3 separate regions of the Homo sapiens genome follow, and regions 1 and 2 are each linked to region 3. The links come from fine-mapping of genetic effects on gene expression. A gene starts in region 3. Each other region holds a variant in brackets. All regions are shown on one strand. Distances are between the middles of the regions. Region 1 overlaps STX11 (syntaxin 11). Region 2 overlaps STX11 (syntaxin 11). Region 3 holds the start of STX11 (syntaxin 11).

Region 1 (4,242 bases), 27 kb after region 3:
CTACAGGTATATGCCACCACGCCCAGCTGATTTTTGTATTTTCAGTAGAGATGGGGTTTCACCATGTTGACCAGGCTGGTCTTGAACTCCTGAACTTAGGTGATCCACACACTTCGGCCTCTCAAAGTGCTGGGATTACAGGCATGAGCCACCGCGCCCAGCCTTAATAACACTCTTTTAATCATTATTTGTATGTGAATACAATGAGCCTCTCTTTCCTCATCTTTACAGTGAAGGCACTGTGCAAGCTAGTCATTACAGGCTTTTTCTGCTCTCACCTTCTTTGATTTTACTTAACATGGTGGTTGGGTTGATTAAGGAAGGAACACAGTAAGTAGCTGCTCCTTACCCACCTGACTTCCACACCCGTGGAGAAATAAGAAAGGAAAAGCAGTCAGAGGCCAAAGGGTCTCGTTAGTGACCGATAAAGACAAGGTTGGAAGATGTGGCTTACATCTGTGGGACTGTGCATTCTGATCTTGAAGCCAGCATTAGCTGGATTTACCCTCCCTGGCCACAGCTGATTTCACCCACCCCACCCAGGGGTAGTGCAGAGACAACACAGGTTCTCTGCTAAACCCACTTTTAGGAAAAAGAAAGAAGTGGCTGGGCTACTGCAGACAGGTTCTTCTTTTAGATTCACTAATTAGATAAGCAACTCCATGCCCCTTTGCAGGAGGAGGTGGAGAGGGATGCCAGAGAAGGGAAGAAACAGAGCAGAGAATATTGCTCCTTAACAACACTAGCGCCTCCCGACCTAGTACCTCCCCACACTAGCGCCTCCCACCCTAACTCCCCCAACAGCTTCAGTGCATGATTAAGTGGAAAGGGCATGAACTCAGGACCTGGACAGATGTGAGTTTAAATCCCAGACTTCTCTCTTACTCACTGGGTGAACTTAACTTCTCCGAGACCCAGTTATTAGTAAATCGAAAATGATGTTACCCTCCTCCCAAGGTTATTGTGAGGATTGTGGTGGATTTTATATCAGTTCTCAAGCACAATGACTGGTTTGGGGTGCACACAGTCTGTCACTGAGATTCGTTTTTCCTTCCTTGCTTTACGGAGTGGGCTTGATTCTAGAGGGCTGCAGACACACGCAGAAAGTTACTATTATAGAATGTTTGCTTCTCGAATGTCTTTGCTTGCCACAGTCTCTAAAGGGAGTGAGAAGACTGTCAGTGGTGAGTGGAGATAACTGAGGAAGGGTTTGCTATTTTAACTCCCAGGAAAGAGAAACATTTTAAATCAAATCAAGCTGATCTTTGAACACATGGTTGAAAGATGTTAATAATGGCCATTTGAGTCATCAATAAATTGTGTCTAATGCCCTGTTTTTTAAAAAGCAAGGAAGTGTGTCCAGGCATTTTAGAAGAGGATTTCCAACAAAGATAAGTAGATGCCTTTGACATTTGAAGGGAGAAACTTCAGTTACTGTAAAGGTTACTTACATGGAAAACCCTCATGCATTGATGATGTTGGATAACTCAGATATTTCCGTACCTTGTGTAAAAGATATCAGCCATATATAAGAATATTTTTTCTGGGAGAATTTAACAGGAGTAACCAGGCAATGAGACTAGAATAAGTGGCCCAAAGGACACTGTTTACAAGAAAGAGGAACAGATAAAGGAATGTAAAAATTCTTAACTGGTGTTACGAGTTGGAAAAGAAAAGGTCATTGATGATTCTGGAAACTCCATGGATTTCTCCCTTTCAAAGATACTTCATGGAATAGTTACAAAATATAAAGGAATTACTTAAAGGCATATATGTTTTCCAACTGGACTCAAAATCTATTCCCCATCATTTTTTAAACATAGATCTTTGCTGTATTTTCCAGGCAAAGTTTTGCTTCACATTCTAGGGCCAAAGGGAAATCAGATGTAAGAGTTACAACAACTGTTTTAGTTTGTAAATACTAATAGAGATACAAGTGGAAAAATTTGCACAGATGACTTGAGCCTTGAGGCCTTGACCCTTGAGTGCTCCTGTCTTTACTTTCTCCCTTAGCTCATCTACTGGCTGGGAGCGGTGGCTCACGCCTGTAATCCCAGCACTTTGGGAGGCTGAGGCAGGCGGATCACAAGGTCAGGAGTTTGAGACCAACCTGGCCAATATAGTGAAACCCCATCTCTACTAAAAACACACAAAAAATTAGCCGGGTGTGGTGGTGCACACCTGTAATCCCAGCTACTCAGGAGGCTGAGGCAGGAGAATTGCTTGAACCCGGGAGGCAAAGGTTGCGGTGAGCCAAGATTGCACCACTGCACTCCAGCCTGGGTGACAGAGGGAGACTCCGTCTCAAAAAAAAGAAGAAAGAAAGCTCATCTACTGTCCTTTCCTGCTGTGGCTTCTATGCACCTGACTGTAAAATTTACATCTCCAAGTGTCTGTATTCTGTTATTTCAGAGAGTTAATAATTTTATGGATTTTTTTTAAAGTTGTGGTGACTTACTCCCTGTTTTTAGGACTGTAACAACTGAAGTGTTGCAATGTTGGGGAAACTCTGATATGAAGAAATTTGTGTGGGAAAGAAAGTAGTGATTCTAATGGTGACAGT[A/G]TTTCCATGTGTTAATCCAGTTCTAAGAATTAGATGCTAATAATTGTTCCTAATAGAAAAGCTCAATTAGGGAATACGTTTCCTATTAGACTAACGATTTTAAAAGAAGCCTTCTTGTGGGGAGTTTAGGAAAAAGAAGCTAGTGTAGCTTTGTGGATTACGGATGGATTCTCAAGTAGTCACACTTTTGGGATTTATATCTCAACTCCATAACTGTATGACTTTAGGCAAACTGCTTAAACTCATTAGGCCTCAAACCTGTAGACTGGGGATGATGATAATACCTCATAAGGAATAAATGGGTTAATACCTGCCCATTGCTGAGTACCGCATTTGGCATTTTACAAATGCTTAATAAATGTTCACTGTAGAGCAGAATGTATGAAACCTACACAGGAGTAGCTGCTTTGATTTCCCGTGCATTTCTACAGAAAGCATCTGAAAGCATATTGCTAAAAGTGAAATCCCAGCTACCCACTGGCTGTTTATCAACTGTGCATATCAAACTGCCTTTTTCTCTTCACACACTGGCAGAAAATTCTGATTGAGGAAACTGAAAAGCGAATTATGTCAGAGGGCATCAAATGAGTAAAGTGATTGAAAAGTAGAGGCTGTCTCCTCCAGCAGTGGTTTGAATAACTCCTACCTGCTTTCTGCTTTAGAGCAAAGAGAAAACAAGAGACATTTAAAAATTATTTCTTCTAGCCTCAGACTTTTATCGTTATAAACCATTTCAATTAATACTCTTCAGCCTTTCAAATTTTGCTTTGAATGAGCCCTAAGACAATATTAAATGCGTTCTTGCCCAATGCACTTTAAGATACGATACAAGCTTTTTTTTTTTTAAATTAACTTCGGAGCAGCAAGAAAATTAGAGCTATTCATTAGGAACTTTTTAGTTTTAACCTGTAATGTTTTGATGTTCAAAGAATAGTGTTTCCCTCTGTATTAGTCTGTTTTCATGCTGCTGATAAAGACATATCTGAGACTGGGCAATTTACAAAAGAAAGAGGTTTAATGGACTTACAGTTCCACGTGGCTGGGGAGAACTTACAATCATGGTGAGGCAATGGTGAGGCATGGTGAATGCAAGGAGGGGCAAGTCACATCTTATGTGGATGGTGGCAGACAAAAAGAGAATGAAGAGGATGCAAAAGCAGAAACCTCTAATAAAACCATCAGATCTCATGACACTTATTCACTACCACCAGAACAGCATGGGGGAAACCGCCCCCATGATTCAGTTATCTCCCACCGGATCCCTCGCACAACGTGTGGGAATTATGGGAGTACCATTCAAGATGAGATTTGGGTGGGGACATAGAGCCAAACCATATCACCCTCTTAGATGTGTCATTTTAAAAATCAAGAAACAGAACACTGGTTTTACTCAGTTGAGTGAAATTATTGTTTATGAACCTGTTGGGGAAAGTCCATTTGTTGTTCTTTAAGGGCTGTGTTACTATGGGGTATGCTAGAAAGGAACTGCTAAATTACAGTGACACTCTACCTGTGGAATTTCTAGGTGCCTCTGGTAGCGGGGATGTGTGGGCAGGAGGGACTGGATGAGGTGGTTGAGAAAGGGGTACACAGGGTGACCCCATGGGGCTGTGCAGGTTGTGATCTCACCACAGATGAGAGAGACTGGCAATCCAACCATGCTCAGCTCACCAGGATGC
Region 2 (4,204 bases), 37 kb after region 3:
AGCATTTTAAAAAGCAGTGTTATTTACGATGCTTATCATTAGGGAATGATATTGAGAAGAGGAGTAAGGAAACCTCAACTTCTAAATTTTACACTTAGATTTCTGTATTTTGTTGTCATTTTACTTCAAGCATGTTTTACTTTTACAACATCTTCAAGAGAAAAAAATTTAAATCATGATTTGCATGGTAACTGTTTTAAGAGTTGTTAGTGTGTACAGGAGGGGATGCTTCCCAGTGCCGAAATAGACACAAAATAGGCAACATTTAGATGTTGGCCCCAAAGCCTTGTAGATTATCCTCAATTAAAAATACTTAAGTTTGCAAGTCTTTCTTCTTCTTTTTTCTTTTTTTTTTTTTCTGTGTCTGTTTTAATTTGCAATGATTGGAAAACATAAAGCAATGAAAAGAGATGGTTTCCCAATGCAATCTAAAATTTTCACACACCAGGGCCTGTTGTGGGGTGGGGGGAGGGGGGAGGGATAGCATTAGGAGATATACCTAATGTAAATGATGAGTTAATGGGTGCAGCACACCAACATGGCACAGGTATACATATGTAACAAACCTGCACGTTGTGCACATGTACCCTAGAACTTAAAGTATAATAAAATATATATAAATAAATAAATAAATAAATAAAATTTTAAATTGCTCATTGAGTTCTGCGCGGCTATGATATTGAACTGCAGGTGCCTATAGGCCTTAAAACACAACTGTTTCATGTTGTTCAGTCATCTTATTTCTTTCCTTGTAAGCAAAATGTCAGAACATTTAGCTCCTTTAGTGCACTTATTGCCCACACCGAGGAATACAAAATTGGGACTGCTGAGTAAAATGTTTAAGTTTCAATCCCTTGAAGGCAAATATTTGACTCTCAATAGAGAAATTTAACTTCATTATCTCTACTTGCAGGCAAAATGAAAGACCGGCTAGCAGAACTTCTGGACTTGTCCAAGCAATATGACCAGCAGTTCCCAGACGGGGACGATGAGTTTGACTCGCCCCACGAGGACATCGTGTTCGAGACGGACCACATCCTGGAGTCCCTGTACCGAGACATCCGGGACATTCAGGATGAAAACCAGCTGCTGGTGGCCGACGTGAAGCGGCTGGGAAAGCAGAACGCCCGCTTCCTCACGTCCATGCGGCGCCTCAGCAGCATCAAGCGCGACACCAACTCCATCGCCAAGGCCATCAAGGCCCGGGGCGAGGTCATCCACTGCAAGCTGCGCGCCATGAAGGAGCTGAGCGAGGCGGCTGAGGCCCAGCACGGCCCGCACTCGGCAGTGGCGCGCATTTCGCGGGCGCAGTACAACGCGCTCACCCTCACCTTCCAGCGCGCCATGCACGACTACAACCAGGCCGAGATGAAGCAGCGCGACAACTGCAAGATCCGCATCCAGCGCCAGCTGGAGATCATGGGCAAGGAAGTCTCGGGCGACCAGATCGAGGACATGTTCGAGCAGGGTAAGTGGGACGTGTTTTCCGAGAACTTGCTGGCCGACGTGAAGGGCGCGCGGGCCGCCCTCAACGAGATCGAGAGCCGCCACCGCGAACTGCTGCGCCTGGAGAGCCGCATCCGCGACGTACACGAGCTCTTCTTGCAGATGGCGGTGCTGGTGGAGAAGCAGGCCGACACCCTGAACGTCATCGAGCTCAACGTACAAAAGACGGTCGACTACACCGGCCAGGCCAAGGCGCAGGTGCGGAAGGCCGTGCAGTACGAGGAGAAGAACCCCTGCCGGACCCTCTGCTGCTTCTGCTGTCCCTGCCTCAAGTAGCAGGCCGGCCCGGGCCGCCACCGCCCATCCCAGACCATGGAGCGCGCTGGGAAGGACGCACCAAAGCCG[G/A]GAGCTCTGCCCTGCAGGGAGTTGCCCCAACCCTTTCCGGAACTCAGTCTTTAGAAAAGAAACGCCAGGTTCAAGAATTGCAAACCAGCCTGTGCTTGGAAAGATGGTTAGTTGATACCGTCCGATGATTCTTCAGTAAAGATAGATTCCCACAAAGTTGTGCAATGTCATTATATGACACCTTGCACTCTTACCGTCTTGACAGAAGCCAAGTAAGGAACTGAAGTTGTATCTGACTGTAGGGTGAATGTCTGAGGCCTGCCTCCTAATAAAGACTCAAGGAGGAAGTCAATTGGGCATCTGCTAATAGAATGAACTCATGATGGAAACTTCAGTTCATTTACTTTGTCCTGAAAATTCCCTGGTTCTGTTCCATTTTGAGCGAAATTGGCCTTGGGAAAAACCACGTTCTTCCTTTCCGATTCTTCATCCGGTCTACGCTATGCAATTCCTCCCCAAATATAGATCTTATTTCTGCTCATTTCCCCTACTTATTAAAATCACACCAAACACTTACTATTTTCTTATCTCTTTCACTTTTTAAATATCTTTCACCAGGTTATATTTTGGTATTATTTTTCCAAACATTTTTAAGCACTGAATATCGAACAAGCACTCAAATTGAAGTATCAGTCATGTTTTGTGTATTTTTCGCTGATAAAAATTATTTAACATTTATATTTTTACTTGATTACATATGCACATGTATGTAAATGTAAAATACTAATATTCACTAATATATGTACATAATGATCAATTGGTTTAACTTCTTTTATGTAAGTATGGTATATAAATTTCAAGACGAACACTTTTCTGGCTCTTGGTATTGGTTTGCTTGTTTTGAGTTTGTTTCACTCCAGTTTGCCCCTTCCTAGTCCAGTTTGGGTCAAACTTCATGTTAAACAACTCTGCATTGGTTATGGCGGTAGACATATGGCGGTAGAAAATGTATACGGAGCTAGAGACAACTAACATTCTTGGAAATACTGCTTTTGTTTTACTGTGGACCATTCCTTCCATGCATTGAAATGGAGAAATTCAAAGTAAAAGAATTCTGTTTTTCAAGCAAGCTTAATAAACATTACATTATACACATATTTTTATACATTTCTGGCTTGACCATTTAGTTTACTTTCTCAATTATTGTTAAAATTTTTCTTTTTCCTTTTTTTTTTTTTTTTTTTGAGATGGAGTCTCACTGTGTTGCCCAGGCTGGAGTGCAGTGGCAGGATCTTGGCTCATTGCAACCTCTGTCTCCCAGGTTCGAGCGATTCTCCTGACTCAGCCTCCTGAGAAGTTGGGACTCTGGGCGCGTGCCACAATGTCTGGCTAATTTTTTATGTTTTTAGTAAAGACGGTGTTTCACCGTGTTAGCCAGGATGGTCTTGATCTCCTGACCTCGTGATCCGCCCGCCTCAGCCTCCCATAGTGCTGGGATTACAGGTGTGAGCCACCATGCCTGGCCTTTTTTCCCCCCTTTTGAGACAGGGTCTCCCTTTGTCACCCAGGCTGAAGTGCAGTGGCATAATCATGGCTTACTGCAGCCTTAAACTCCCAGGCTCAAGTGATCCTCCCACCTCAGCCTACAAATAGCTGAGACTACAGATATGTGCCACCATGCCCGGCTAATTTTTGTATTTTCTGTAGAGACAGGGTTTGCCATGTGGCCCAGGCTGGTCTCAAACTTGTGAGCTTGAGCAATCCGCCCACCTTGGCCTCCCAAAGTGCTGAGATTACAGGCCTGAGCCACTGACCCTGGCCAAATTTTTTTTCTACTAGCTACTGAGGCTGCCACATCTGGATGGAACTGAGTGGAGGGGGAAAAGAATGAAAAACTCAAAAGAATTCCCATGAGGGTGTCTTGCTTTCTCTCCTGAGTTACAATACTTTAGCAAAATCATGAGGCTTTAGAGATATGGTGTAGTCTGCAAACTTCTTAATGCCCTTACCCACATTTACCATGTTTCCTGGCCTTCCTCTGTGTCAACTCTTAGCTCTTCCTAATCATTATTTAATACATGAGTGAGTTTAGTAGTGATCATATTTCTCAGGTCCTTTAGAAGCTGGAATTTTAAAAGAATTAGAAGGAGGAGTATGTGAATTCTTTGGAGCTCACTGCCTGACTTGCTTATGACCAGGAAAATCTATCCCCTGTATCTAATTTTAATTTCATGGTTAAATTTGAGAATTGTGGAAACCAAGTTCCACAAGGCTATTCTCATATTTCTCCCAATTTCTTTTTCAGCCAACTCCAAGGATATGTATCACCTTTGACTTAATTTGCTTTCTCTAAGGGAAAGGGGAAAAAATGTTCACATAGCTCCACTGCAATGTTTTTTATAATAGAGGAGAG
Region 3 (4,242 bases):
ATCAGGCCTCGAACTCCTGGCCTCAAGCAATCCTCTCGCTTCAGCCTCTCAAAGTGTACGGATTACAGGCGTGAGCCACGTCTGGACTGTACTTTCCTTACTTTTGATAACCTGACAACTTTGAGGAATATTGGTCAGGTATTTTGTAGGATGTTCCACTACTGGAATTTGTTTGATATTTTTCTCATTATGAGACTGAGGTTATGGTTTTCCAGGAGGGAGACCACACATGTAATATGCCACATTCATCACATCATATTGACTACATGCCATCAATGAGTCACGATTGTTGACGTTGGCTTAGAACATCTGGCTGGGGTAGTGTCTGTCGGCTTTCTCCATTGTAAACCTACTGTTTTTCCCTTTCCACATTGTACTATTTTGGAGGAAGTCACTGTGCACAGCCTAGGGTACATGATCTACATAAATTATTTGGAATTATTCTGTATAGGAGATTTGTCTCCTCTCCGCCTTTTATTTATTTATTCAATTATTTATTTATATCAGTGTAGACTCATGGATTTTTTTACTTTGGCTTGTAATCCAATACTACCTTGTTTAGTTTACTTCGTTGCTCAAATGGTTCCATCTTTGGCAACTGGGAGCTTTCAGGTGGTTCCTGTGTCTAAACATTCTGCCATCAAGGCAGGATTCGTTCTTTAGTTTTATTTTTTTTCTTCTCATTCAATTGAGACAGCGTCTCATTCTGTCGCCCAGGCTGGAGTACAGTGGCGCGATCTCGGCTCACTGCATCCTTGACCTCTCAGCCTCAAGTGATCCTCCCACCTTAGCCTCCCGAGCAGCTGGGATCACAGCGTGCGCCACCACGCCCAGTTAATTTTTTTATTTTTTGTAGAGATAGGCTTTCACCACATCGCTCAGGCTGGTCTCAAACTCCTGGGCTCAAGAGATCCTCCCCCTTCGGCCTCCCAAAGTGTTAGGAATACGCGCGTGAGCCACCGCGCCCGGCCCGATTTTTCCTTTTTTGAGTATCACTTCCTTACTTTTCAGCCTCAGCCTTGTTTTTCAAGGTGCTTTACCACCACCTGGCACAATCCACACTTTCTATTTATCCCTCCCCGTTAAAGTGCCGGGACCTGGAGGGTGGGTCTTGGCAGTATTTTTGAGCGCGGTGGGCACACAAGGGGACGCTCAGTTGATATCCAGAGAATGATGAGCCCGGCGGGTGTTGAGGCCGACTGGAGAGAGGTTGGTCGGCAGGGTTCTGGGAAGGCGGTGCTCGGCCTCCGTGTGACCGCAGGCTCCTCGCCCGCGTCCTCGAGGGTCCCAGGGATGCAGGACCTGCCGCAGCTTCCGCAGCCACACCCACGCTCAGAGACGGCTTCCAGCGTCCTCGCCGCGGCAACGCACCGGACTGCAAATGTCACCAGCGCAGCGGGGATTCCCGGGGGAAGTCCAGCGCGCTCCCTGCCCTGGGGACCAGAGGACGAGCGGAGGAAGTGTCTTGGGCGGCAAACATCCCACTCCCCGCGCCGGTCCGCGCAGCCCGCGGGAACGCCCCTGGGCTTGCGGGAGGGGCTGGAGCGCGTCCCCGGCTCCGGGCGGTCCCGAGCGCATGGACTCTGGGTGGGGCGGGAACCCGCGCTCTGTGAGCCGGCTGCCGCCGCGCCCCAGCGCTGTCATCCCGGGGCGGGGCCTGGTCCCCAGCTGTGGTCGCTTCCTAAGCGGCGGGGGCTGAGCCGGCGGCGCCCAGATGCGGCCGCGGCGGCGCGGAGCTCGGGCGGCCGTGGAGGAACTCAGCCTCGGCCGCAGGAGGCGCCGGGAGCGGAGCCGCCGGGAGTCGCGCAACAGGTTTCCTTCTCCATCGCTGCGCCCACAGGGGACGCGCGCCCTGCCGGGAGAGGGGCTTCTCGGTTCGCACTCTCGCTCCCAGTCCAGGTTTGTTTTTCTCTTCCTGAGCCCCCATTTCTCTTCCTGACTATTTTCCCCGTGCGCGGAGAGATCGGGGAGGGCGGGTCGGGGCGGGGGCACTGTCTAGGCTCGGGACCCGCGGCTGTGCCTTAGGTGGGATTTTGGATCTGGCGCAGGTCCTCACGCCGCCTCTGGGCACCTTCGGAAACACAGCATTGGGTTTCTCATATAAAGCAGAATGATTTTTTAAAATTACTTTTAATTTCAGAGGCTGAGGGACTTAGGATTTAGTGCTTCGTAAGAATTATTTTAGGGATACCTGTTGGTAGGCTGCCTTTATAAAGTGTCCACCCAAGACTACTTTTATTTTAAATCGAAAGGCTGGAGTGTTTTTTTATTATCACCTCTTCACTTCCTAGTAGGGTGACTGTGTCAAAAACACCAGAATGGGTACTTCTTGACTTGAACTTGGCGGTGTCACTCAGTAGCCAGGAAAGACGGAGAAATTGATAGAGCCTTCGAGGAGTCCCTTCGAAGCCCACGTAAGACTTTGTTTTAGAAACATGGAGAGAAGTAGTGGCAATGCCTGCGAGAGCCACGCCGTCCTGAGAGGGAATTCTGCCTTTTTCTAGACTCCGCTGACACCAGCTGAGATCTGTATTACTTCCTGTGGTTCTCACGCACTTGTTTCAGCCGTTTCTCAGCAGAGGGAGGAGCTGTTATTTACAGGTATCCAAAAATGAGTCACAGGGCTGCTCTCTTAATTGTGAGACTTTGTTAATGAACTTTTGAAAAGCGAGGCTTGCTTTAAAATGAGACTCTAGATGTGAAATGCCTGCCCTGCCAACCTGGGGCAGTGGTATGGGAAGTGACGATTGAGTTTTCAGTTTCCTAAGGCGCCTGATGTTACAACATGCCAGTAAAGGTCACTGGGCTGATCTAAGATAACCATTGAAATCATGTGCTTTGCCACAGATGCCCAAGAGAAAATTAATTTCATTATTCAATGACCATTTTGCTGTCATTTTCACTGCATGGGAGAAAGGTATCATTTAATGTGGTGATTGTAAGTAACTCTCTAAAATCAAAATATTTCAGACAGTTTGTGTTTACTAAATTGGTGCTAAAACCACATGATGATTTTTGAAGCGGGTGGGTCCCAGCGGGAGCAGAGAAATTTAAAAGTTGAAGCTGACAAGTCCTATTGCGGTGGGTAACAGCCCTTAGGAAGGGACTGCACACTATCTCAACACGGTAGAGAAGGGGACACCATCTCTACTGGAGCTGAGTTGAGCTGAATTCAGCCTCAAACAACAGTTACCAGGTACCTTCTCTGTGCCAGCCTCTTCCCTGAACCTTGCTTGTACAACCATGAATAATAGGATCCTGCCGGCAAGGTACTAGGGTAAATCTATACCCAGAGTGAAGTTTCTGTGCCAATATAACTCAATATGCTGGGTCCCAGTGTATTTAAAGAGTAGACTCAGCAGATTATCACCCCTAGATAATTGCGGTCACGATTAGTTGATAGTGTGACTTTTAAGAAATAGTGTGACTAATTAATAGTTTATTTAAATATGCTGGAAAATTCAATATAATGAGATAGGTGCTAGGGTAAATCTATACCCAGAGAAAAGTTTCTGTCCCAATATGACTGATGTTTCTGAAGATCTGGGATTTGGAATGGACTGGGTCATGGCTGGAAGAGCAAGGAAACTTTTGAGTTTAGTCATTTACTTGTCTTTGTAGGCAGCCTATTCTTCATTTGATACATGATTTAAAAATGTATGAATTTGAAAGGTATGGTTTTTAAAGTGCTTGAATGAACCATGTTTCATGTTATTTAATAACCATGTAAAACGAAATTCAGCTGATTATCACCCCTGGACAATTGCAGTCACCTTTAGTTAACAGCATGACTTTTAGGAAATGGTGTGACTAATTAATAGGTTGTTTTGTTTTGTTTTGTTTTTTGAGACAGAGTCTCACTCTGTTGCCCCAGGCTGGAGTGTGGTGGTGCAATCTTGGCTCACTGCAACCTCCACCTCCTGCGTTTAAGCAATTCTTGTGCTTCAGCGTCCCAAGTAGCTGGGACTACAGACACCCACCACAACACCCGGCTAATTTTTGTATTTTTAGTAGGGACAAGGTTCGGCCCTGTTGGCCAGGCTGGTCTCGAACTGCTGACCTCAGGTGATCTGCTTGCCTTGGCCTCCCAAAGTGCTGGGATTGCAGATGTGAGCCACCATGCCCTGCCTAATAGTTTATACATTGGTAACACTATATTGAAGCGAGTTTATGATCATTGTTTTTGTAGTTCAAATCAATGTTTTTTATCACATTATAGCCGTGTGAGCCAAAATGAATAAA

Evidence for each region.
Region 1: its variant is fine-mapped to the expression of STX11 in testis (GTEx, PIP 0.92).
Region 2: its variant is fine-mapped to the expression of STX11 in whole blood (TOPMed, PIP 0.99).

The regions. Positions count from the first base shown.
Region 1 is chr6:144,175,444-144,179,685 of GRCh38, forward strand. All of the region lies in intron 1 of STX11 (syntaxin 11), which reads left to right. Among named protein-coding and RNA genes, the nearest start is that of STX11, 27 kb to the left of the region's middle. The variant A/G (reference allele first, on the strand shown) is at 2,564.
Region 2 is chr6:144,185,710-144,189,913 of GRCh38, forward strand. It overlaps STX11 (syntaxin 11), which reads left to right. Exons shown (of 2, transcript NM_003764.4): 2 at 914-4,204. The coding sequence starts at 919. The coding sequence ends at 1,782. Among named protein-coding and RNA genes, the nearest start is that of TRL-TAA1-1, 29 kb to the right of the region's middle. RefSeq lists an enhancer at 764-1,264. The variant G/A (reference allele first, on the strand shown) is at 1,852.
Region 3 is chr6:144,148,805-144,153,046 of GRCh38, forward strand. It overlaps STX11 (syntaxin 11), which reads left to right and starts at 1,713. Exons shown (of 2, transcript NM_003764.4): 1 at 1,713-1,899. RefSeq lists a silencer at 1,400-1,839.